Linked DNA regions of Homo sapiens: regions 2, 3, 4 and 5 are each linked to region 1. Evidence: fine-mapped expression QTL. A gene starts in region 1. Each other region holds a variant in brackets. All regions are shown on one strand. Distances are between the middles of the regions.

Region 1 (5,108 bases):
TGTAGCTGTAATTGAGGTATGGACTGCTTTTAATATGCCTATTAATGTCATTTCTGCTGCTTCATACGTGGTTCATTCCACACAATTAATTAAAAATGCTGTTACTATTTCATACAGATAAACAACTAATGACAAAAACAAAAAAGGGGGAGAAATAGGGATTATGGGACAGCCCATACACAATTGAATCTAGCATTATTAACTTTAAATGTTTTGAGCCTGCCCAAAGAAGGCCAGATGTTATCAGCAGCTGAACAGCATCTACAGAAACCAGATGCAAAGACAGAAGCAGAACAACTGATTTGGTGGAGAGATCCGGTAACAAAAAGTTGGGAAATAGGTAAAATAATAACTTGGGGTAGAGGTTATGCTGTATTTCTCCAGGCCAAAATCAACAGCCGATTTGGATACCATCAAGACACCTGAAACCTTATCATTAGCCAGATGCCAAGGAAGAGATTCTGGGAGGATCCCAAGGACCCCCCCCCCCGGTTGCAGCCATGTTGAGACTGACACTGAGAAGGACCCCAACTGTCGTGAGCTATACCCATCAAACACAGCCACCCACCTGGGGACAGACCAAGAAGCTGTCACAGATGGCAGAAGAAAACCTGAGGAAAGCGGGACAACCAATCACAACGAGTAATTTAATGGTAGCTACCATAGCGGTGATCACCATTGCCATAAGTATTCCTTCAACAAGGGCTGCCGAGACCAGCTCGGTCGGGGAGAGCCTAACCTAGCGGCGCTAGAGGAATTAAAGACACACACATAGAAATATAGAGGTGTGAAGTGGGAAATCAGGGGTCTCACAGCCTTCAGAGCTGAGAGCCCCGAAGAGAGATTTACCCACGTATTTATTAACAGCAAGCCAGTCATTAGCATTGTTTCTACAGATATTAAATTAACTAAAAGTATCCCTTAAGGGAAACGAAGGGATGCGCCGAATTAAAGGAATAGGTTGGGCTAGTTAACTGCAGCAGGAGCATGTCCTTAAGGCACAGATCACTCATGCTATTGTTTGTGGCATAAGAAGGCCTTTAAGTGGTTTTCCACCCTGGAAGGGCCAGGGGTTCCTTGCCCTCATTCCAGTAAACCCACAACCTTCCAGCGTGGGCATTATGGCCATCACGAACATGTCACAGTGCTGCAGAGATTTTGTCTATGGCCAGTTTTGGCCATTCTCCTGAGGCAGGAGAATGGTGTGAACCCAGGAGGCGGAGCTTGCAGTGAGCCCAAATCGCGCCACTGCACTCCAGTCTGGGTAACAGAGTGAGACTCCATCTCAAAAAAAATTTTTTTTTACTATTCTGCTACCCAATATCCTTAAATAATTATTGAGTGCCTTAATCAAAATAAAAAATTCCCAGCTTGCCCTTTAAAATTCTTGTCAATCTGTTTCCTCTTATACCTAGTCAGCCTTGTTTTCCATTCCAACACTAAGTCTTAGACAAAAAGTCTTTATCTGTCCAAAAAATCTCTAAGTCTTTTTTTTTTTTCTTTTTTCGAGACAGAGTCTTGCTCTGTTGCCCAGGCTGGAGTGCAGTTGCCTGATCTTGGCTCACTGTAACCTCTGCCTCCTGGGCTCAAGTGATTCTCGTGCCTCAGCCTCCCAAGAAGTTGGCATTACAGGCTTGCGCCACCATGCCTGGCTAATTTTTGTATTTTTAGTAGAGACGGTTTTTCGCCATGTTAGCCAGTCTGGTCTTGAACTCCTGGCCTCAAGCAGTCTGCCCGCCTTGGCCTCCCAAAGTGCTGGGATTACATGCGTGAGCCACCATGCCCGGCCTCCCAATTTATCTTGAACATCCCTAGGTTCAACGTTCTATGAAAAACAGCCCCTTCTGCACGATTCCTTCTCATTTGTGCCCCGAACTTTATAAAATGCAACCACCTTTCTGAATGTGTATGAGCTCTCTATAGCATCAGGTCTTTATACTAGAGTTTGTAAAATGGTTTTGATTAATCTATTATTTAAAATGTTGGAGTAATTCTCAACATTTAAACATCATTGAAAAATTGCAAACTCTAGTAGGACCCACATTTCAATAAATGGCTGCAATTTACCAGTAGTTGACATCTTTAGATACGCACTGTTCAGTTAGAAAGTTACAGCTTCATTCGAAAAGCATTGAGCGTCTATTACTTGGGACACTGTTTTAGACGCTGGGGATATAGTAGTGACCAAAACTTATCAGGGAGTTTATAATCTAATGAGGAGGAGAGACAGGCAACATAATCATTACTACAGTTTTCTAAGAGGAACAGAGAATATGTGGGTGGGAAGGGTGCTTGGGCTTTTGCATTCATTTAAATACCTGGCTGGATGCTGTTGGAATTTGAGTTTATGACTCGTACTACCATCCGAATCGTCATACACCATCATGTACGTTATGCACTGCCCCTATAAAACTCTCAACAAGTCTAAGGCAGGGAGTGTGCCTCCTTCGCCTTTGGATTCCGGGGGCCCAGCAGTGTTTTTATGGAGGGGACACGATGGAAAGCGAAAAGTTAGGCGTAGTTACTTCGACCACCGCTGTCCCGGGTGGTTATTCTGACGGGGTTTGGACTGGGCGCCTGGGAGGGTGCAACACAATAATTGTTGAAGAGCAGTCAGGTCTTTCGCAGAATCTCAAAGCCACCTCCGCGCCGGCAGCTCCGTTTCTAGGGAAACAGGACTGTAACGCGTACGCGTCGTGGGTCCTCGTTCTCTAGCTACGAGTCCTGCCGCTCTGAAACAAACTAAATTCGTGACAAGAACTTGGCCCTCAGAGCCCGTCGTCCAACGCGAAAAACCACGGGTAACCGCGCCCCCTGCCGCGCCGCCGCTGGCACTGCAGCTTCCGGGGTCGTCCAGTTCCAGGCGGGACTACTTCCGGCTCCGAAGGTCCCCGGCTTCGTGGCTAGCCGGGGTCCTAGCGCTGGAAAGGTGGCCGTAGCGGCCGCCTGACCCCTACAAAAGTCTGGGACAGGGGCAGCGACAAAGGCCTTGGGAGGACGCCCATGGTCGGAGGGATCTCGCCCCGGGAGAAAAGTTGGGACAGGAGCGCGGGATCGAAGGGTGGACTCCGAGCCGGCCTGTCAGGCAAGAGCCGGGCAGGTGCGGTGGCGGAAGTGCAGGGACGGAGGCCGAAGCGGAGCGGTCTAGGGAGCCGCGGCCGCGGGTCACCCGGCGGGTAGCAGTTGCTGAGTGTCAGCTAGACAGCAGCGACTAGGGCTCGGGCGCCGGCGAGATGCCTTTGTTCACCGCCAACCCCTTCGAGCAAGACGTGGGTGAGTGCTGTGCCCGGTCCTGGACTGCTGTGTGCCTGGCCCTGGACTGCTGTTTGTCCGGCTAGAAAGTGGGCGGTAGCGACTCCGGGGACTAGGAAGCAAAGCGAAGGGAGGGGAGGGGCGGTGCCGCCCGCTCCTTCGACGTTGGGATTTTTCTGGGGCAACCTCGGCGCGTCGCTAGCGGTCTGGGGAGTGCTTCCTGCCGCCTGAGTTTGGGGACCCTCAAAGGGCCGTTCTCCTTGCCAAGCGTAGGATTTGGGAAGAGCCTAGGGCTCGCTGGAGACTGGACTGATTAAGTAGTTGTGGAGTTGGTGATTAAAAACTTCCTGCTCGTTCGACAGCTGGTTACCTCCGTCTTTGCCCCATCGTTTTCTGAAGATGATGCAGCAGTGGAGACCCTGCTGTCTAGAGAAGCCCAACACTAGACACTTGACACCTAGACAACCGCATTGAATAGGAAGAACTTACTTCCCCATTATTTATATTACTCATGCATTCAATCCCTGATAGGGTAGCTTTAAGATTTATTACAATTGTAAAGGTGTTGCTCTTCATCCCCGGATTGCAAAGATTGCGCGGGTGCTAGGAGATGTTCGGTTTTAGAGTATGAAAAGGAAATCTCCAGTCTCAAAACACTCCAGAACAACAAGTATTTTACATGTTGCAGTCATAAAGCGCTGGTCTCTCAGTGACTATAGAATGAGAAAAACATGGATAAGATATATACGAAATTATTTAGGAAATTTGAGTAACACTAAAACAAACTGAGAAATATATGTATGTATTCTCGAAAGTCTGGGTCTCACTATGTTGCCCAGGTGCGACTAGAATTCCTCCCACCTCAGCCTCCACCTCCGTTTCCCCTTCCCGAGTAGCTGGGACTACAGGTTTGTTTTTTGTTTGTTTTTGTAGCAGTAGTTAACAGAACCCTAGGTAAATTTTTAGAACTTGGAAATGGGGTTGGGGCGGGGAGACTCAGAAGAATACTGCACATCTCAGCAGTAATTCCCCTGTTTCATAGTTAACATTTGGTTATTAGGAGACTGTAGAAAGTGCCCTATTCTGATACGTTGTGTAATCCCCTAAGCCATTTTAAAAAACATGTTTGAGTCAAATAATATATGTAAATAGTTCAAATATGTATGTTCCTTACTTCATTAAACTTTTTTTTTGGTGGATGAATACAGGTGACTGGCGTAAATCTGGGAAACATCACTCTTAAGGCTCACTGTTTCCTTTTGGAACGCCTCATTGCAGTATTCTTTTGTTTGAATCATACAACCTTTGTGCAACCTGTACTTTTAAAAAATTGCTATTATGAACACTTTGATTCTGTTCTAATGAAATAAAACAGAAGGCGCAAAATAGAATTAGACAAATGATTTTAAAACTTAAAAACCGTGAATTCTTTTCTTCAATATAAATTTTTCTTGAAAGTTCATTGTTTTCTGATGGAAAAATTCTCTGGTACAAGTAGGCAGAGTTGCTCTGTCTGTTCTGTTCTAAACCTTTCCCTGCCTGGCTCCCGAGGCCCCAGCATTGGTTTAGTGGATCACAGTTTAGTCCTACAGTTGTAAAGGAGGCACTGCTGTTGAGATTAAAAAAACAAACAAACAAAAAAACTGTGTCTAGATTATTTTATGGCCAGTGCCATAAGCCAGAGCTTCAAGTAGTTACATATTAGCTTAAGCATGACTGAATTCAGAACCCCAAAGGCATTTTAAGGGTGAAAGAATGAATTTGAGGCCCTCCTGTAACTTCTGGACAAGAGAATGGAATTAGAAAAAGTAGAATGAAATACTAAAGAGCTCAAATTGGACTTGCACGTATATCAT
Region 2 (5,108 bases), 200 kb before region 1:
ACTCTCACATTCCTGAGACATCCCTGGCTCAAAGCTCCTTCCTCGGCCCCAATGAGTCCATCCAACTCCTTGCAGAATTCTCCAGGGAGGATATTTCTGACTTCAGAGGAATCCTCCTCTCCTCCAAGAGTATTATAGGTACATGCAGTGTTCGAAGGATCCCAGTCCTAGAAGCCTCAGCTAGCAACAAAGTAAGAGTAGCTCCTAAGAAAACATATGTCCACACAAAAACGTGTATAAGAATGCTCACAGCAGCATTATTCATAATAGCCAGAAAGTAGAAGCAATTTAAACGTCCACCAACTGATGAATCGAAAAATAAAATGCTGTATATTCCACAGAATTTACTAAAAATCAATTATAGTGGCTGGACACAGTGGCTCATGCCTGTAATCCCAGCACTTTGGGAGGTCAAGGGGGGTTGGATCACTTGAGGCCAGGAGTTCAAGGCCAGCCTGGCCAACATGGTGAAACCCCGTCTCTACTAAAAATACAAAACTTAGCTGGGCGTGGTGGTACATGCCTGTAATCCCAGCTACTTGGGAGGCTGAGGCACGAGAATCGCTTGAACCTGGGAAGCAGAGGTTGGGGTGAGCAGAGATCACATCACTGCACTACAGCCTGGAGGACTAAGCAAGACTGTCTCAAAAAATAATAATAATTATATATATATATATATATAGAGAGAGAGAGAGAGAGAGAGAGAGAGCTTCAATGGCTAAATGTTATAGTACTTGAAATGTCTATAAAGTCACATTTTAAAAAAATAAGAAAACTCCTAGATAATCATAACAAAGCAATGGCAGGAGGATACAACTGTCCATTTGTATTCCAAATGAGAAAGCCAACTGATGATGTTTTCAAGGAGTCTTCCCTAAATTCAGCTGCAGATTTCACTGTCTTTCATTGTAATCTTAAAACAGAAAAGCCAAGATCATCTCCAACTTATAGAAATTTTAGATGATCTACACAGAGTAGAATACTATATGTATAGATGAGGTATCAGAAAGACCTTTTAGTAAGTCTTGTCATCTGAATTAAACTTAACATTGCTACCATTTTTTCATCCTAAATATGAATGAATTAGACCAGATCAAAATCAAGGAGTACTTGTTCTATGCCAACTCCTATTTTAAGCACATACAATCTTATGTAACTTAATCCTCATAACCTACCAGGCATGAGCATTCAAGGTTGGCAGGGCCCTACTCCAGGCCTCCGCCATGCCTTCAGAGGCTGAAGAGCTACTGCTGGTAGAGAAGGTGCTCAGCAGGGAATGGTGGACAGGGCTTGAATCCTCTGGCCCCCAACACCTGTTCAGTGCTCCAGAGAGGATACTGCTTCTGTAACTGCAAACTCTTACAGTTTCAATGATCTTCCTCCATGAAAAGGTAGTAGTATTCTTAGGTGCTAAAAGTAAACTCAATCCTCTAAGGCTTTAACTCACTGGAGAAACAATAAATGTAAAAAATTAAAATATATGTATGTGAAATATACATGTATGTGAAAAACTGTAGTAACAACATCTCACCAATGGGAAACTATAGTTCCAGTTCAATAGCACCAGTGAAAAGCAGTGACCACCTCAGTCTAAATGCATCAGGACAGCCTAGCAGGGAGCAGGGACAAAATACATACCACGAACTCACACCTCTCTGATTTCCACTGGCTGAGCCCACCTGAAAGTGAGACCTAGGGACCCTCTCATATAGTCTATAAGGGTGAGCAGGATGGAGAGTGGTTCTAGGACCAAAGGGAAAATAATCTTCATGTGGGATCACAGGCCCATTAGACGATGATCTAGCAGCCAGTTGGCCTCATCTAAATGCATATTCAAATGGAAAGCATGTTTCACTAAATGCTGGTGACAGGGTTCCACAGAAAATCATTTGTAAAGCAGTTTCTCATAGTACCTCCCAGCTGGTCTATGTCTCTAGTTTTTCGGGTTTAATGCAGAATTTTTTTAAGCCATTAAAATTAAGACTTTTCCATAATCCGCGTCATTTTCATTTGATGTATACCTCTTTTTCAAACATCTTGACTGAAATAACCCACTGGTTCAATATCACCTTCCAAACACATATTTACAACTGACACAAGATTAGCAGTCACTTGTCTGGAGTTGTCAAGGTATTATCTGATCAAGAAAATCTGCGTGCTAAAGGCCACAATTAATGACATTCTTCTACACATTTGTAACAAAAATATTACCCAACCCTAATAACCATGACCCTCTCCCACAGGCCAAGCAGGATAGTTCATATCTCCCTTTTAGCACTTGAGAAAATAACACTCCCACCCCAGAGTGGTTATTCTTCCACTTTGGAATTTGGAATTTAGGGTGAAGGATTCCCCTTTGCAGCCTCTCTTTTAACGCTACACCTGTTATTAAGTCTCTTTATTCATTTGGGAACATTCATTTAATGATTATTACATACATAACTGAG[A/T]TGTTTCCTACCCTTAAGAGCAGTCTGAAGGCGAAAAGTACCTAAAGGCAAAGCCTCCATATGCCTAGAATTACACAGATCAACCATAGTTTCAAATATTCTTTTCCTCTGCCCATATAACCAATCACAACATACAGGAAAATCTACTGTTTTGTATGCAAAGAACACCTCCTAGCCTCTTCTCAAAGCCAAAAAACCTTCAACCATTAATGTGTTCTGATTTCTAGTGCAAAAAAAAAATAGTAATAAATTATGCTTCATGAATCGAGTTGAACTCTTACATCCCAGATTTCTGAGAGTTTAAAAAAAAAAATACAGTCAGCCTTCTGTATCCATGGGTTCCACATCTGCGGATTCAACAAAGCAGGGATACAAAATATTCAGGAAAAAAAAAAAATTTCCACAAGGTTCCAGAAACCAAAACTTGAATTTGCCACATGCCAAGTACTACGTTGAATCCACAAGAATGAAGTGATGTGTAGACATTGCGTTAGGAATTATAGATAATCTATAGGTGATTTAAAGTATAAGGGCGGATGTGCATGGGTCAGATGCAAACAATATGCCACTTTATATCAGAGACTTGAACACCCATGGATTTTGGTATCCACAGGAGGTCCTGAGACCAATCCCCCAGAACCCAAGGGATGACTATAATCTCTATCCAGGGATTTCCTTCAAAATCTCATTGAACTAAAGTGCTTCAGAAACACCAAACCCAAATATACCCTTCTATCTACATTCTGGCACAAACTAAAACTCCCCCCAACTGTTCATGGAGAAAATATCCCAGTAACTAAACCAATCATCAGGGACCACCAGACTTCACCCATACCATTAAATGCCCAAAAAAACTTATTTTAAAAAACTGATTCTTAAAATCTCAAGTTAAAGAATTAACCTTGAATAGTCTCATAATATTTCATATCATTTATAAGAACAGTAACCAATTTTTAGCAAAATTTTAGACACAGAAGGGACAATCAAGATAACTTTGTTTAAACCCAGTAAACTGGTATAGGAAGAGATGAAATGATTAGTTCCAAGTTACACAACCTGTTAGTGTTAAGGCTGGAACTAGAACCCTGATCTCTGACATGGGTCCAGGACTGTTTGATTTCACCATGTTCCCTTATATGCCCCACCTAACCCAAAGACACGATAAGAACAGAGCACTCATCTTCCAACTCCCAGATACCTCTTCTTGGGGTCAGAATACTCTTCCTATTCCAAATCAGTATGTGCCTCTCAGATTTTTATCAGCCAACCAAAACAGAGAGCTAAAGTAGCCTTCAATGAAACCAGAGGAAGCTGCTCTGTCTCAGATTACTGGAACACGGGCTGTAATTAATAGCAATCCACTGAGAGGAACAGCCCTTGCTTTTAATTGGTATTAAACAGCCAATGTTCAGGCCGCCCAAAGGGAACTGCAGAGAAGTTCTCAGAAGTGCAAGGTCAGCCATACAGACCCTGCCAAGGTTAAAGCACAAAGGGGGAGTTCAAGGCCCTTCATGAGCACAATGCAGTGAAAACCCTCCATTAACACACAGAAAGCATCCCAAGAATAAATGGGTGAGATGAAGATGCATCACCAAGAGGATCTTTTCCCAGATGCAGTAACAAACTTTCTCCCAAAGAACCCTATGTCAAACTCTAAAAATAAACCAAATCCTCCCATGAACCATATAAAGAATGCACCTATGGTGCATGCTGTGCAATTTATGTAGCTATCTGAAGGCAGGCAACTAACCAAATTTCCAAAAGAACCTTCCATATAATCAACACATTAGGAAACATAAATCTGACACAAATGCTAAATTAGACTCTCCTTAGATGGACCTCTAACTATAATTTACCTACCTACAGAGTACTCTTAGTGCTCAACAAAGGTAACAGGCTAATAATGCATGCCAAATAGTACTTGTATTTATATCGACTAAAATACCTTTATTAGCAACGGAAAAATCCTTACCCTGAGATGTATGATTTCTCCCCACCAAATTGAGGACTCTTATCTTCCATATACTACACCCGACATGTGAGCTTAAAGAAGCTGTAGTGTCACCTGGCTCCATTTATTTTCTGTTGCTCATAATAAGATATCTGAAACTGGGTAATTTATAAAGAAAGGGAATTTATTTCTTGTAGTTATGGAGGCTGGGAAGTTCAAGGTGGAGGGCCCACATCTGGTGAGGGCTTTCTTGCTGGTGGGGACTTTCTACAGAGTCCTGAGGTGGTACAGGCCATCGCAAGGTGAGGGGGCTAAGTCTGCTAGCTCATGTCTCTCTTCCTCTTCCTAGAAAACCACCAGTCTCACTCCCATGATAACCCATTAATTCATGAATGGATCAATTCATGCATGAAGGCAAAACCCTCAGGACCCCACTTATCAATACCACCACATTAGGGATTACATTTCTTTCTTTTTTTTTTTTTTTTTTTTTGAGACAGAGTCTCACTCTGTCACCCAGGCTGGAGTGCAGTGGCGCAATCTCTGCTCACTGCAACCTCTGCCTCCCAGGTTCAAGCGATTCTCCTGCCTCAGCTTCCCAAGTAGCTGGGACTACAGGCACATGGCACCACGCCCAGCTAATTTTTGTACTTTTAGTAGAGATAGGGATTCACCATGTTGGCCAGGATGGTTTCAATCTCCTGAACTCA
Region 3 (5,108 bases), 220 kb after region 1:
CTGACCCTGGGGATCTCAGGTTAGAAGCCAGGTCCCGGATTGAAGGCCTCAACCCTTTAGCCATTGGTTTCTGGCTAAGAAAGTTACTGACTTCATCCCAAGATCATGAAATAGTTTCGTTCTAGACAGCTGGGACTCCCGGTTACCAGGAACTTGCTGCCAAATAATCGGTTATGGCTCTATCTGTTCCGGGCCTGTACCTATCCTCATATACCCTATTATGCCATGTTTGGAAACTATAGAGGAAGCTTGCCATATATTATCCTTTTACATTAAATATTTCTTTTTCTATTTAGAAGTAGATTGTAACATTTTCCAGAGTCTCTCATACTTCTTATATGTGGTAGATGAGTTTCTAGCCATTAATTTATGCGCCTGTTGATACATGTGAAAAAAACAGGTCCCTAGTCAAATAAGCTTGATAATCACCATACTCCGTCCCTTTCTCAAAAGATTCACAGCACCCAGTAGCCCACTAATATCTGTTAGCATTCCACAATAAATAAACCAATTAAATTTTATTTAACCCCAAGATATTCCAAACCTACTTGATCTCAGAATCCATTTTTTTCCCTAAAGAATACCTATTAAGTACTTGAATAACTAGTATACTACAGAATACAATTAGGGAAATGCTGGTTTAGTTATTTACACCAGGCCTCATAATCACTGCAAACCATCTCAGTGTTGTAGACTGGAAGGATTTTGTGGGACAGAGTGAAGTTAACGTTAAATAGATACAGTATATATATTTCTGGGGCCTCCCTCTTAGGAGACTTTGATTCAGTTAGTTTGGAGTAAGGCTTAGGATTCATATTTTTGGCAAACGCTCCCCAAATCACTTTCATGTAAATTCTTTGAGAAATACTGGGTCAAATTATTGTCTTGGTCAGCTCGAGAGTTTGTGACAGTGCACACAGCACTTAGTTTCCCTGTTCTTTTAGCTTCTTGTCCACTTATTTGGGGTGGTAAGCACTTTGAAGTATGAATGTCTTTCTTTAAATAAAATGTAATTGGTTTATTCATCTCCCTATCCTTACCCTACCCTTGCTTGCCTCAAGATGGGCACTCAATAAATGGTTGTTGGAATGAATTGAAATTCAATAACTTTAATTCCTCCAGGAATCAAGAGGAATCTAGGGAATGGTCAGAAATGATTGAACACAATATATTTTATCAGGGATTCCCAAGGGACACACACACACACACACACACACACACACACACACACACACACGCCCAGCCACTCTACTTTTTTTTTCTTTGAAAAAATCAAAGTGAATTTAAAATTGGGGGTTAGCAGGTTTAGGAAATTAAAAGGCCTATATTCTTTCTTTTTTTTGAGATGGAGTCTGACTCTGTTGCCCAGGCTGGAGTGCAGTGGCACGATCTCGGCTCACTGCAACCTCCATTTCCCAGGTTCAAGTGATTCTCCTGCCTCAGCCTCCCAAGTAGCTGGGATTACAAGCATGCATCACCACGCCCAGCTAACGGCTAATTTTTGTATTTTTAATAGAGACTGGGTTTCGCCTTGTTGGTCAGGCTGGTCTTGAACTCCTGACCTCAGGTGATCCACCGCCTTGGTCTCCCACAGTGCTAGGATTACAGGCATGAGCCACTGTGCCCGGCTGGAAATTAAAAGGTCTGTATTCTTAAAAGAGCCAGAATATGATGAGACACTCAGCTATATTGATTGTAAAAATAATTGGTGGTAGTGTTAGTCTCCCTCCTCGCCTACAATCCTAGACCCTATTCCCTAGAGTAAACACTTGATAGTTTGTTTCTTTAATAACAGCTTCACTGCATATAATTCACATACCAAGGAATTCAGCCGTTTAAAGTGTACAATTCAGGGGTTTTACTATATTCAGAGTGGTACAACTACAATCATCACCACGACCAATTTAGAACATTTTAATCACCCCAAAAAGAAAACTCATACCTATTAGCAGCCACTCCCCATCTCCTTCCAACTCTCTCAGCCCTAGGGTGTGTTTGTGCATTTGCCTCTTCTGGATATTTCGTACATTGGGAACCACACAATAGACAGCCTTTTGTAGGCTTCTTTCACTTAGCATAATGTTTTCAGGATCCATCCATGTTGCAGCTTTTATCAGCATTTCATTTCTTTGTATTGCCAAATATTATTCCATTACATGGATATATCACATTTTATCCATTCATCCATTGATGGACATTTGGGCTGTTTCCACTTTGTGGCTGTTATGAATAATGCTGCTGTGAACATTCATGCACAAGTTCTTGGGTATGTGTGGATCATAAATTTCTTCACCAGTCACATCAAAATGCGTCATCTTTAATAATTTGATGTATACTACAAGTATATCGAAGATACAAGGTGTTTTAGAATCCCACTCCACTGGCCTGAATGGCCATATCTCAGCTATTTCCATATAATCCTGCTCTTGTCAGTTTGTACGAGTAAGCAATGCTCAGTCTCAAGTACAAAAATTGTGGACATTACTCCCTCCTTTTGAGAATCTCTCTTCTCCCACATCCTCTTTATAGACTTTATAGACTTTGAATTGCTCAAAGTCTAATTCTTTTTTTTTTTTTCTATTTTTTATTTTTGAGACCGTGCCTTGCTCTGTTGGCCCAGGATGGAGGGCAGTAGTGCAATCATGGCTCACTGCAGCCTTGACATCTTGGGCTCAAGCAATCCTCCCACCTTAGCTTCCTGGGTAGCTGAGACTGCAGGCGTGTACCACCACACCTGGCTAATTTTTTATTTTGTGGAGATGGGGTCTCACTATGTTGCCGGGGCTGGTTCAAACTCCTGGGCCCAAGCAAGCCTCCCACCTCAGCCTCCCGCCTCAGCCTCCCAAAGTGCTGGGATTACAGATGTGAGCCACTGCACCCAATCAAAGTCCAACTCTTATTCCACTTCTTCTATGAGGTTCCTCTGCTTTTCCAGCCTCTTCTGAATTCCCATAGCAGCATCTGCCCCATTCACTTGGGCATTAGCCACCTGCAGTCTTGGATGGCTTCTTCACCATTTCATGTGTCTGCATCTTATTTCTGCAAACATAGGACTCTAGAGGGCAAGGATCAAGTCTTACCATTCTTTTCTGCCTTCCTTCCCTCAACTCCAACTATGCAAGGGTAGAGAATGAATTAAAAAAGACATAGCACAAT[A/G]ATACACAATAAGTTAATATTGAATGAGTGGATGAATGCTATAGCTCTATGATATTGATGTTCTCAGTGCATAGTAAGATGGGAATGGTTTGCACCAACCAGTGAGGAAATGACGAGTGTAATTAATTAAACCAGGTGCAGCTCTGAAATTGTGAGGTGCTTATTTAAAAGTTGCTGACTTGTTGGCTGGGCACGGTGGCTCACGCCTGTAATCCCAGCACTTTGGGAGGCTGAGGTGGGCGGATCACAAGGTCAGGAGATCGAGACCATCCTGGCTAACACAGTGAAACCCTGTCTCTACTAAAAATACAAAAAAAATTAGCTGGGCATCGTGGCGGGTGCCTGTAGTCCCAGCTACTCGGGAGGCTGAGGCGGGAGAATGGCATGAACCTGGGAGGCGGAGCTTGCAGTGAGCTGAGATCGCCCCACTGCACTCCAGCCCAGACAACAGAGCGAGACTCCATCTCAAAAAAAAAAAAAAAAAAAAAGTGCTGACTTGTCACAGTAAATGCTGAAAGGCATTCTATTTAGAAATAATCTTGTCTGTGTATCATAGTTTCTTTATTTCTTCTTGTTCTCATTTGCAAGGACATATTCAGATATATTGTCTTGAAAATAGGATTCTTTCAACTTCTTCTCTTTTATTTCCAAGTTCAGATCATAATTTAGTGACTGTATTATTATCAGAGTTATTATGTCTGTGATGGCCATATCCGAAATCTCTGTGACTTTTCAGGCAAGGTTAGTTATTTGAATGAACCCCGCAAATGAACTTTCTCATGTTAATCTCTAAAGCCAAATGGAAACAAACAAACAACAAATTTCAGGAAATCAGACACATAAAGGTACAATAATTTGAAACAGAACAAAGATATTTTAGTTTTTCTCACTCTTGGCAATGAAAATTTCTCTATAAAATCTGCTCTTCAGACATTTCCCCATGGATGACAGAATTAAGCAAATCATCCCAGTTTGTTCTTTATGAGCTGCTTATGAAACATTCCTTGGAAATAATTCTGCCTAAATAAAATTACTCTATTAATTCATAGCCTTAATTTTTGTGTGATGTTGAAAAGAACTAAGGAATAGGACGGTCTCCTTTGGTAGTAATAAACCATGCCACTCTGGTTTAGAACGAGGAGCTTGCTGAAGGTTGGAGAGGCAGAGTGTACATTATAGTGAAGCTGCGGTTGTTGCTTCAGGGACACACTGATAACCCTGGTCACAGTTGCAAGAGGTAGATGGCAGATCCCTTCCACAGGTATGTGTCCTTGTATCCCCATGGTCATTCATGTTAAGATGGGAGGCATCTGGGTGACTTCCTTAAGTTCTTACTGTGAAGATATGTTGACATATTTGTTCAAAAGACAGATAGAATTTGTTGTAAAGACATCTGAGCTTTGTAAATTAATCCTGGATATATCTATTGATGGCCTTCATGTGGGGTGAACACGTTTGTCAGAGTGTTACCAAAGGACTGTTTACAGATGCATTCTTTTCTGAGCATCTAAATGAAAAGTTCACAAGTACCTATGGAACTTCCAACACTGTGCTAGAGATGATAACTCTTAAAAGAGTCATAGAAATAGAAAATATTCCTAGTAGAAAAATTCTTAGAGTGAAATCAGGAGGAGATCTGTGCATTTGAAACCACCAGGAGGGAGCATAGAGTAAGAGGATGGACTTTGTGTTTGTAAAAAGAACTGGACTTACAATGCTTTCCGTTTACTAACTGTTTGGATTTGGACAATTGTGCTCCACACAAATTCTTTCCCTTAATTTTCACAATGACCTTATGATGTAGATATTTTTGTCACACATTTTCTAGGCATAAAAAAAGTCATATGATTCGTCCAGGGTCATACAGCTAGAAGACAAGCCAGGATTTGAACCCAAGTGTCCTACTCTAGACTGTCTTCCTAAAACAGGGAAGGGAGGAGTTGGAGGGCTTG
Region 4 (5,108 bases), 36 kb after region 1:
TCTCAACTTATATTAGCCTACAGTTGGGCAAAATCATCTAACACAAAACCTATTTATTATAATAAAGTATTGAATATCTCATGTAACTTATTGAATACTGTACTGAAAGTAAAAACCAGAATGGTTTATGGGTATCTGAGTGTGTATCACTTTTGCACCATCGTAAGTCATGCCATCATGAGTTTGACACTGTCTGTAAAGATGGAGAGATAGTGTGGGCTCTGAACACTGACAGTCTGAAATGTCAGGCTTATGAGTGTCTTTTAGTTAGAGTACTTACAAAAGAACTTAGGTTTACCGTTTTGATACTCTTATACAACTATGAAGTTAAAGATATTTATAAAATAAAAACAAAATGAGTGGTTTTGTCTAAGATTTTAATTTAGAGCATTACTTTATATAACAAAATTTTCTAAAATAAATTACTGCTCACAAAACAATTTTCAGTTAAGATTTATCACCTCAAAAAAGAACTTTTTTATTTGTAACTGCTAAGAGAATTCAACATGAATGTGATGGAATTTGTAGGTCAATTGCTGTCATTTTGACGATAGGACACCCTACTTTTATAGTTGCTGTAAGCATGCTTATGGGTAAAATATTGTCATTTTAGGTGATTGGTAATCGCTGGTAGACAAATGCAAACTTGCATGCTAAAGTTAAATGACAGTCTTCGGTTAAAAGGAAGTCATCCAGAAAATGACTCTATTCATTGTTTTTATACTTTTGTGGAATTTGAAGCATAAAATTTTCACACACAGAAGTCCCTTGAAGTCCCTTGAAAATATATCATTCTTGGATCTCCATTTAAGAACCATGGAGCTGGCAGGGCGTGGTGGCTAACACCTGTAATCCCAGCACTTTGGGAGGCTGAGGCGGGCGGATCACGAGGTCAGGAGTTCGAGACCACCCTGGTCAATATGGTGAAACCCTGTCTCTACTAAAAATACAAAAATTAGCCGTGCATGGTGGCGCACGCCTGTAGTCCCAGCTACTTGGGAGGCTGAGGCAGGAGAATCGCTGGAACCCGGGAGGCGGAGGTTGCAGTGAGCCGAGATCGTGCCATTGCACTCCAGCCTGGGCGACAGAGCGAGACTCTGTCTCAAAAAAACAAACAAACAAACAAACAAAAAAACATTGAGCTGATAGAAAAGGTGCACATTTCTTATTTATTTATTTGAGACAGAGTCTTGCTTTATCGCCCAGGCTGGAGTGCAGTGGTGCCATCTCAGCTCACTGCAACCCCCGCCCCCTGTGTTCAAGTGATTCTCCTGCCTCAGCCTCCCCAGGAGCTGGGATTACAGGCATGCGCCACCATGCCCAGCTAATTTTTGTATTTTTAGTAGAGAGGGTTTCGCCATGTTGGCCAGGCTGATCTCAAACTCCTGACCTCAGGTAATCTGCCCATCTCGGCCTCCCAAAGTGCTGGGATTACAGGCGTGAGCCACTGTGCCGGCCCAAAGGCGCACATTTTTTATTAATGGAGTATATCAAGAAAAGCGTTTTACTTTCTACACTTTTAGCTTTATCTTACCACTCCATGTTTCTTTTCTTTTCTTTTTTTTTTTTTTTTTGAGACAGGGTCTCACTCTGTCGCCCAGGCTGGAGTGCAATGGCGTGATCTTGGCTCACTGCAACCTCCACCTCCCAGGTTCAAGCAATTCTCCCACCTCAACCTCCTGAGTAGCTGGGAATTCAGGTGTGCACCACCATGCCCGGCTAATTTTTTGTATTTTTAGGGGTAGAGACAGGGTTTAATCATGTTGGCCAGGCTGGTCTCAAACTCCTGGCCTCAAGTGATCCACCCGCCTCAGCCTCCCACAGTGCTGGGATTACAGGCGTGAGCCACTGTGCCTGGCCCACTCCATGTTTGTTTTCTGTGTACCATTTCAAATAATCAAGTGGAATTCTTGCAGTTCCAAAAATGCCATTTTCTGCTTAGTCCTCTGTAGCATTGCACCTTTGGTTCTGTCTGCCTGGAAAGCCCTGCTGAAGGAGGTAAAAGCATTTAGAAAAGGAAAAGAACTTTACTTTCAAGGACAGTTTGCAAGGGAGTCCAGGCTTTAGAAAAGTTGCCTCCCCATGTTAAAAAGTAAAACAGGTATTTTAAGGAAAAGACCCCCACAAGGTTACCAGGTTTTTCCAGGTTTGCTATTTATATGTTCATGGTAGAAATAGCAGTTTTCTCACGTGATAATTATATCCATAAAGGACATCACTACCTTCAGTCATTGTCATTGCAAAAGTTAGCA[G/A]GTGAGTACTTTTTGTTAAGAAATCAGTAGTTAAAAGGAAAGGCTCAAGTTTTTATGTACTTTGAGACCTAAAACTAAATATGGTAACATTTTTTGTTTTATCTCAGAGTGCAGAGTTTTTTGTTTGTTCGTGCCTTGTTTTCTTGCTTATCAATAATGGCAGGAGGGCAAAATGTCATTTTTATTTCCACAGACTTAATTTTCTTTTCCTCCTGGCAAGTGCCTACTTAACCTTCAAAACCCGTGTCAGATTTTATATCCTCTGAGAAGCCTTTCAACCTTTCTCTGCTTTTTAGCTCCCAGTGGAGTTAAGAGTTCTCTTCTTTGAGCTATAGCTCTCTGAACATATGTAACAGCATTTCTCATACTGTATTTTAAATAGAGTCATTTCTCAGTTCCTTAGAGAGTTGGTTCCAGAACCCCTGTTGATACCAAAATCCACAGATGCAAGTCTTCGATATAAAATGGCGTCATATTTGCATATAACTTACACACATCTTCCTGTATACTTTAAATTATCTCTAGATAACTTATAGTACCTGATACAATGTAAATGCTATGCAAATCATTATATTGTATTTTTAAATACAATATATTGTATTAAAAATTTTTTTTGTTGTTCTATTGTCATTTTTGTTTATCTTTCATGAATACTTTTGATTTGGGGTTTGTTGAGTCCATGGATGTAGCACTTGCCAGATACAGAGGGCAAACTGCGCTTCTTTACGTATGTCTCTCTACTAAATCAGTTGATTCTGAAGAGGCTCATGACTTCCTTGGGTGGGAGGAAGGAGAAAGGAGAAAAATTCTGAAGGTAAAGCAAGATAACATATTTTTAGTCAGTTCTGTAGGAGAGATTGTAAAACACTGCTAGATTTTTTTTTCTTGTTTTTATAGATAGGGTATGACTGGGTTACCGAGGCTGGAGTGCAGTGGTTATTCACAGGCGTGAGCATAGCACGCTACAGCCTGGACTCCTGGCCTCAAGCAGGCCTCCTCCCTCAGCCTCCTGGGTAGCTGGGACTACAGCTTTGTGCTAGATTTTAAACTTCTTGAGGGCACAAATGGTGTCTTAATTATCTTTGTAATTTCAGTGCTTAGCCTGAAGGTACTATTTTCTCCATGGTAGGTTTTCATAAATGTTAGCTGAATAATGTTTGTTGAAGGTGAGGTTTATGTTCTTTACACTTGTATCATTTTTTGTTTTTCACTCAGTTGTGATTTATTCTTTTTTTAATATAAAAAGCTCTAAATATAAATGCTACATTAAAATTTTCTTTAATTATTAAATGGTTTGTGTAAAATTAGAGTGCCAATTTCTTTAATTTGAGAATTTAAGCTTGAACAATGTTTTTTTGCTATCAACATTCCATAGAATCAACTTGTAGTCAGTGGAGAGAATATAGAGCTGGATTAGGGCTGGGAAGGAGTTGTCAATTTGGTTGCTTTGCCTACTTTTATGCTTCATCAAAGAGTTTGTAGTAGTGGCTGGGAGGAAAATTATCCTATATTGGTAGAACCACTAAGGAAGGGTACACACATACAGTTGTTGGTAGGTTCATATAAAACGCTTGCATCCATTTCACAGGTTTGGGTTTTCTCGTTTTATACAAAAATTTCTCAAGTTCAGCTCTCCTTTTCAAAATGAAAAGTTAACTTAAAAATGTGTTTGTAAGAGAAAGAAAATTTTTCCTATCTTCCATAGATATTTGCAGATATGATATCTTAGAACTGTCAGTACATCAATACATCAGTTATTTTCTGGCTTTAAGAACTTGGATGATATATAACTCTTTCGTCTCTTTCTAGTGCTCATAAATGAAATGATGTTTCATAATCATAGACATTAATTCATCCATAAGACTCATACTTAAGAATGTCTATTCAATAAGTCAGATTTTTGGAAAGGAATAGATAAAATTATCATTATTTCCAGATACTATGATTTTCCATATAGAAAGTTCAAGAGTCCGATGGATAAACTATTACAAGTGGTAGGAGTTCATAAAGGTTGTTGGATACAAGCTCAACATACAAAACTCAGTAGTATGCTTTAATTACAACTTTTTAGAAAATGTAGTAAAAAAAAGTCATTCTCAGTAGTAACAAAAATTATATAAATGATCTAGAAATGAATAAGCCTAACAAAGATATGTAAGGTCTTTATGGATTAAATTATAAAATTATTTGAAAGCTATAAAAGAATATAAATATATTTTTACATATTATGTTTTACATAAATGTAAATGGAGGATACCATGTTCATAGGGAAGAAACCTTAATATTGCAAAGATTTCTTTTTTCTTATATTATTGCATAATTTCAGTGCATTTCCAGTTCAAATCCCAACAGGACTTTTTCCCCAGAGAACTTGAAAAGTAATTTAATATTAATGTGGAAATTTGAAGGTGTGCAATAAATGAGAAAGAGTAACATAGAAAGGGTATTTTCCCTGGCAGATATTAAGGTACATTAACAAGATGTGTGAACAGATACATGGACTATTGCAACAGAATGGAGTCTAGAAATAGGCTCATGAATAGATTACTGTTTGAAAGGTAGGGTATTATAAATTACTAGAAAAAATGGTGGACTATTTAATAAATTTTGCTGTGATGAATGGCTCTTTTTATACTACAGATAAAATTTTGATCAGTTTCACATAGTACATTAAAATTTCATTCCAAATGAATTAAAGACCTAAACATGGGAGAGGGAAAAAAAAAATAAAAAAACTAAAACTACAGTTAAGTATATAGGAGAATAGATTTAGGAGTTTAAGGGTAGAAAAGGGTAAAAGCATAAGCCATGAAAGAAAAGATTGCCAAATTTGATTGCATAGGGGAAAAAACCACT
Region 5 (5,108 bases), 960 kb after region 1:
TTTCCTTTTGAAGAATTAACTCTCCCTCTGGAAATTTTCTTTTTGGGATTGTCTACCCACTAAGCAGGCAAGTGACTCCAGCTTGGTTAATCAGATGCTCCTGGAACTTCCAGTCTTGATTGGAGCAATGCAGAAAGGGTACGAGATGCTAGGAGATTATTCGTTCCAGTGATGGTAGGTGTGGAGAATGTTGATTAATTCCACTTGCTTTGGAGCTACCCTGATTCCTAACCTTTTTTCGACTTGTTTCTCTGGTATTGCTATCAATTTTGTATGTCCCCTGATATCTACCTAATATATTCATGTTCTGTTTAAAGTTGTTTGTTACTTGTGACCAAACAACTATCACTGATTTAGTGGTGATCTCTGGAGTACATAAGAAATCTTGTCTATTTTAATTGCAATACCTCTTCTAGCAGTTCTGATCCTCTTTCCCTGCTCTATTTAAAAAACACACACTTTATAACTTACTTATTGTGTTTATTGTCTATCTCTTTCACTAAAATATAAGCTCTATGAATGCAAGGATTCTTGATTTAAATGTGTTTCTTTGACTCGTGTATCCCAAATACCTATGACAATTAGTGGAACATAGTAGGTACTCAAGAAATATTTGTAAATTTAATAAAGTCTTTAAGCCACTGATTTGTGAATTTCTTGATGGTCTATATGGAGCAATGCTTAGTGCCCAGTTTGTTGTAAAACCTTGGCATGTTTTTGCTGCAGATGGTTTGGTATGTTATCACTGAGTGGGTTAGGAGAAAATGTAATAACATGAGGACAGTAACCAGCTGCTTTGCATCTCCAAGGGTATGAACAAAACTCTGGGCTCAGATGGTTAAAGTTCTACACAATTGTCCAGATCTTGATATCTAACCAAAGTCCATTTTACTTTTTAAGGGAAATTTTGGAAATATCAATAGTAAGGTAAAAGTAGATTTGATTAAATGACTCAAAAGTAATGCATTCATTTTTGAATTTTTTTAAAATTTAAAATTTGCACTTATTCCAACAAAATGACACAGCACCCAATTGAGACTGAATGTCGTAATCGGACAGCAGATCTCAAGGTGGCAAGTACAGCCAGTAGAGGATGGCTAGTGTGATTTGAATAATATTGTAGAAACTGAGCCCAGAATGAGGTTATTACCAGAATGTTACAGTTGCTAGTGGAAGGTAAATTGAACAACTAATATTGGAACGGAAAGAAGAGTATTTATTAAGCAAGCATTAAGTTTTACATGAGATTTACATATGTTATTTTACATATGACTTTCATATGTTTTTTTCACTTTATCCTCAGAAGAAGCCTATGTGTTAACATCTTCATTTTATAAACAGAGAAACTGATATGAGAAGCTAGTTAACTTGTGGTCACACAAGAAAATGGCAGATCCAGAATCTGGCTCACGTTGACTGATTCTAAATTTCTGATACTTTCCACTACATCACCTCCAACCAAGAAATTAGTTATTAAGTCTGAAATTATAGAAAACAAGCCAACTTTTCTGGGTAAAGATGGTGGATGAATATAGGCAATAGCTATCACCCTCTTGTCGAACCCTAAGCCCCTCTAATCTAAACTTTTTTTTTTTTTGAGACGGAGTCTTGCTCTGTCACCCAGGCTGGAGTACAGTGGTGCAATCTTGGCTTACTGCAACCTTCACCTCCCAGGTTTAAGCGGTCCTCCCACCTGCCTCCCACCAGCCTCCCAAGTAGCTAAGATTATAGGCGTGTACCACCAGGCTCAGCTAATTGTTTTTGTGTTTTTAGTAGAGGCAGGGTTTCTCCATGTTGGCCAGGCTGGTCGCAAACTCCTGACCTCAAATGAACCACCTGCCTCAACCTCCCAAAGTGCTGGGATTACAGGCATGAGCCCCTGCGCCCGGCCTAAACTTTTTTTTTTTTTTTTTTTTTAAGGCATAAACACTTGAGGACAAGAGAATGGGAGAGAAAATGAATAAAATTTTGAAAATTGATAAGTAGATGGGAAAGTGGTAATTGATTAAGCAGATCTGACATGACTGAATCCTCACTAAGCAGTGGAGAAAGTTGAGAAACAAATTGATTTACACTGAGTTGAATCCCTAAG[G/T]CTTAATTAGAGCGGATACCTCTGTAAGTGCAAAGAAAGTAGTCTGATTTCTTTCAGAAGCAGTTAAGCTCCCTAGGCCTGCGTCCCGATTCTACAGAGTTGTATGACGGCTTGCTCTTCCATCATCATGGAAGAAGATTGAAGCTATATTCCCAGGAAATGTAACATGGAAGGGGTAACGTAGAAAGGATTCCAAGCACAATTGAGGACAGGGGCCCATACTGAAGGCAGGGAAGAAGGTAAAATTTGTATACTCAATTCTGAAATCACTGAATCACTGTCTTTCCCTACAAACCTCACAGAAAGCCAGCAGCCAGTCCCATACCCTATAGGAGAGGAATTCGGATGATCATTCTCTGGGGAATCTCAGCAGCCCATGGCTTTCCAAGAGGAGAGACCTAATGACATTAACGCTAGGGATTCCTTAGGGAAATAGCTGTCCTCATCGCTTGGAACTGGAGCCCATGGCAAAACAGCCCCACCTTTGTGCTCAAAACTTCTAATCAACTTTTTAATAAATGTAAACAAATTTAATTGTGGTAAAAAAACACATGAAATTTTTCATCTTAACCATTTTTAAGTGTAGAGTTCAGTAAGTATTTCAGAATATTCACATTGCTGTGTGACAGATCTCCAGAACATTTTCATCCTGCAAACCTGAAACTGTATGCTTATTGAACAACTCCCATTTCCCCCTCTTCCCTGGAAACCACCACACTTCTGTTTCTATGAGTTTGACCACTTCAGATCTCTTGCATAAGTGGACTCATACAATATTTGCCCTTCTGTGACTGGCTTATTTCACTTAGCATAATGTCCTCAAGTTGCATCCTTGTTGTATAGCATGTGACAAGATTTCCTTTTTTATTTAATATAAAATATTCCAGGTTTTAATCGACTTGTAAAGCTTCACTCTTAAGTATGTACAGACAATCTGCAATTATCAGGCATCAGAGCAAAGCTTCTTGTATGTAGTAAACAACATAAAACACCAAACAACTCAGGGATAAGATAACTTTACAAAAACTATCACTTAAAACCTCAGAGAAGGCCGGTCATGGTGGCTCATGCCTGTAATCCCAGCATTTTGGGAGGCTGAGGCAGGCAGATTACCTGAGGTCAGGAGTTCAAGACCAGCTTGGCCAACATGGCGAAACCGCGTCTCTACTAAAAACACAAAAATTAGCTGGGCATGGTGGCGTGTGCCTGTATTCCTAGCTACTTGTGAGGCTGAGGCAGGAGAATCGCTTGAACCCGGGCAGTGGAGGTTGCAGAGAGCCGAGATCGCGCCACTGTACTCCAGCCTGGGCAACAGAAGGGACTCTATCTGAAAACAAAAACAAAAACAAAACAAAACCTCAGAGAATAGGAGATTCCATACAGGAAGCAAGAATAGAATAATTGTAACAAAAAGATCAGTAAAAACAAAAACAAAGAGTTGTTGGGAAAACCTGAAAGAATGGTTGAAATGTAAAGCTGAATAATTTCTCAGAAAGTGGAAAAAAGAGAAAAAGGATGAAAAATGAGAGAAAAAAGATAAGAAAATTAGAGCACAACGTCAGGAAACCTAAAATCCAAAATAATAGGAATTTTACAAAGAGAAAACAGATAAAATAGAGGAGAGGAATTCATCAACAAAATAATTACAAAAATTATGCAGAACTGAAGCACATGAATTTCTTGGTTGAAGGGTCCACCTCATTCACTGCACAATGGTGCAGCATGATGAAATCTCAGGACACCAGGGACAATAAGGGAACTCTACCAATTTTATTTTATGTTTTTTTTACAAAGAGAGATAAAAAAGAATTCAAAGTTAGAATGGCATCAATATTGCAACAGCAATGCTGGAAACTCTAAGATAATGGAGAAATGTCTTCAAAATTATAATAGAAAATGATCTCCAATTTAAAATTATTTGCCCAGCTAATTTATTAATCAAGGTATCCAATGACTATTAAATTTGTAAGTGTCAAGGCTCTACTTTATCACTTTGTTTGCTGAGTAGCATTGCAGAAATAACGTCAGTTCAGGCCCGGCACAGTGGCTCATGCCTGTAATCACAGCACTTTGGGAGGCTGAGGCAGGTGGACCACTTGAGGTTAGGAGTTCCAGACCAGCTTGGCCAACATGGTGAAACTCTGTCTCTACTAAAAATATAAAACTTAGCCGGGCATGGTGGTGCGTGCCTGTAATCACAGCTACTCAGGAGGCTGAGGCAGGAGAATTGCTTGAACCTAGGAGGTGGAGGTTGCAGTGAGCTGAGATCATGACACTGCACTCCAGCCTGGGCAAAACAGTGAGACTGCATCTCAAAAACAGAAAACAAAAAACAAAAAAAAAATACATCAGCTCATTTATCTGTATTTCCTTTTTGTTATCTTTAAATACATTTTAATTGTGGAATAGTTTCAGATTTACAAAACAGTGTGAAGACAGTACAGAGTTCTCATTAGTCCATGCCCAGTTTGCCCTATTATCAACATTTTACATTAGTATAGCATGTTTGTCACAATATAGGAACCAGTATGGATACATCATTATGAACTAAAGTCCATGCTTTATTCACATTTCCTGAGTTTTTACCTAAAGTCCTTTTTCTGCTCCAGTTTCCCATCCAGGAGACCACATTACACTTAGACATCACAACTCCTTAGGCTCCTCCTGATTATGACAGTTTCACAAACTTTCCTTGTTTTTGATGACCCTGACAATTTCAAGGAGTACTGGTCAGGCATTTTGTAGAATGCCCCTCAACTGAGATTTGCCTGATGTTTTTCTGATGATTAGGCTGGGATTATGGGTTTTGAGGAGGTAAAGTGCCAGTCTCATCACATCCTATTAAGGGCGCATGCTATCCACATGACTTATCACTCTTGACGTTTACCAGGAGCACCTCGCTTAGGTGTGTTTATCAGGTTTCTCCACTGTCAAGTTACTCTTTCCCCCGTTTGCTTGCTGTACTTGTTGGAAGTCACGATGTGCAGCCTACACTTGAAGTTGGGAGTTAGGCTCC

Direction of the effects. Alleles are on the strand shown, and positions count from the first base shown. SD is a standard deviation of normalised expression in the study named. Not every link is listed here.
With allele A in place of T in region 2, the expression in left ventricle of the gene that starts at base 3,113 in region 1 is higher (small effect, 0.28 SD a copy in GTEx).
For the expression in substantia nigra of the gene that starts at base 3,113 in region 1, A is the low allele of the variant in region 3 and G is the other (small effect, 0.33 SD a copy in GTEx).

The links. PIP is the estimated chance that this variant, and not a neighbour inherited with it, causes the effect. A credible set is the group of variants that fine-mapping cannot tell apart.
Region 2: its variant is the best candidate, but not a certain one, in a credible set for the expression of STAM2 in left ventricle (GTEx, PIP 0.71).
Region 3: its variant is the best candidate, but not a certain one, in a credible set for the expression of STAM2 in substantia nigra (GTEx, PIP 0.61).
Region 4: its variant is the best candidate, but not a certain one, in a credible set for the expression of STAM2 in whole blood (TOPMed, PIP 0.54).
Region 5: its variant is the best candidate, but not a certain one, in a credible set for the expression of STAM2 in caudate (GTEx, PIP 0.68).

Annotation. Positions count from the first base shown.
Region 1 is chr2:152,173,768-152,178,875 of GRCh38, reverse strand. It overlaps STAM2 (signal transducing adaptor molecule 2), which reads left to right and starts at 3,113. Exons shown (of 14, transcript NM_005843.6): 1 at 3,113-3,273. The coding sequence starts at 3,234. LOC105373689 (a long non-coding RNA gene) reads right to left here and starts at 3,343. Exons shown (of 3, transcript XR_923477.3): 1 at 2,319-3,343. It overlaps LOC105373688 (a long non-coding RNA gene), which reads left to right. Exons shown (of 2, transcript XR_923475.1): 2 at 1-16. RefSeq lists enhancers at 2,756-3,175, 2,652-3,175, 3,336-3,475, 3,526-3,575.
Region 2 is chr2:152,371,452-152,376,559 of GRCh38, reverse strand. The region is part of intron 1 of FMNL2 (formin like 2); the gene reads right to left. Among named protein-coding and RNA genes, the nearest start is that of FMNL2, 39 kb to the right of the region's middle. The variant A/T (reference allele first, on the strand shown) is at 2,448.
Region 3 is chr2:151,953,387-151,958,494 of GRCh38, reverse strand. All of the region lies in intron 2 of CACNB4 (calcium voltage-gated channel auxiliary subunit beta 4), which reads left to right. Among named protein-coding and RNA genes, the nearest start is that of ARL5A, 130 kb to the right of the region's middle. The variant A/G (reference allele first, on the strand shown) is at 3,157.
Region 4 is chr2:152,137,605-152,142,712 of GRCh38, reverse strand. The region is part of intron 7 of STAM2 (signal transducing adaptor molecule 2); the gene reads left to right. Among named protein-coding and RNA genes, the nearest start is that of STAM2, 36 kb to the left of the region's middle. The variant G/A (reference allele first, on the strand shown) is at 2,253.
Region 5 is chr2:151,210,867-151,215,974 of GRCh38, reverse strand. No RefSeq gene overlaps it. Among named protein-coding and RNA genes, the nearest start is that of RBM43, 48 kb to the left of the region's middle. The variant G/T (reference allele first, on the strand shown) is at 2,093.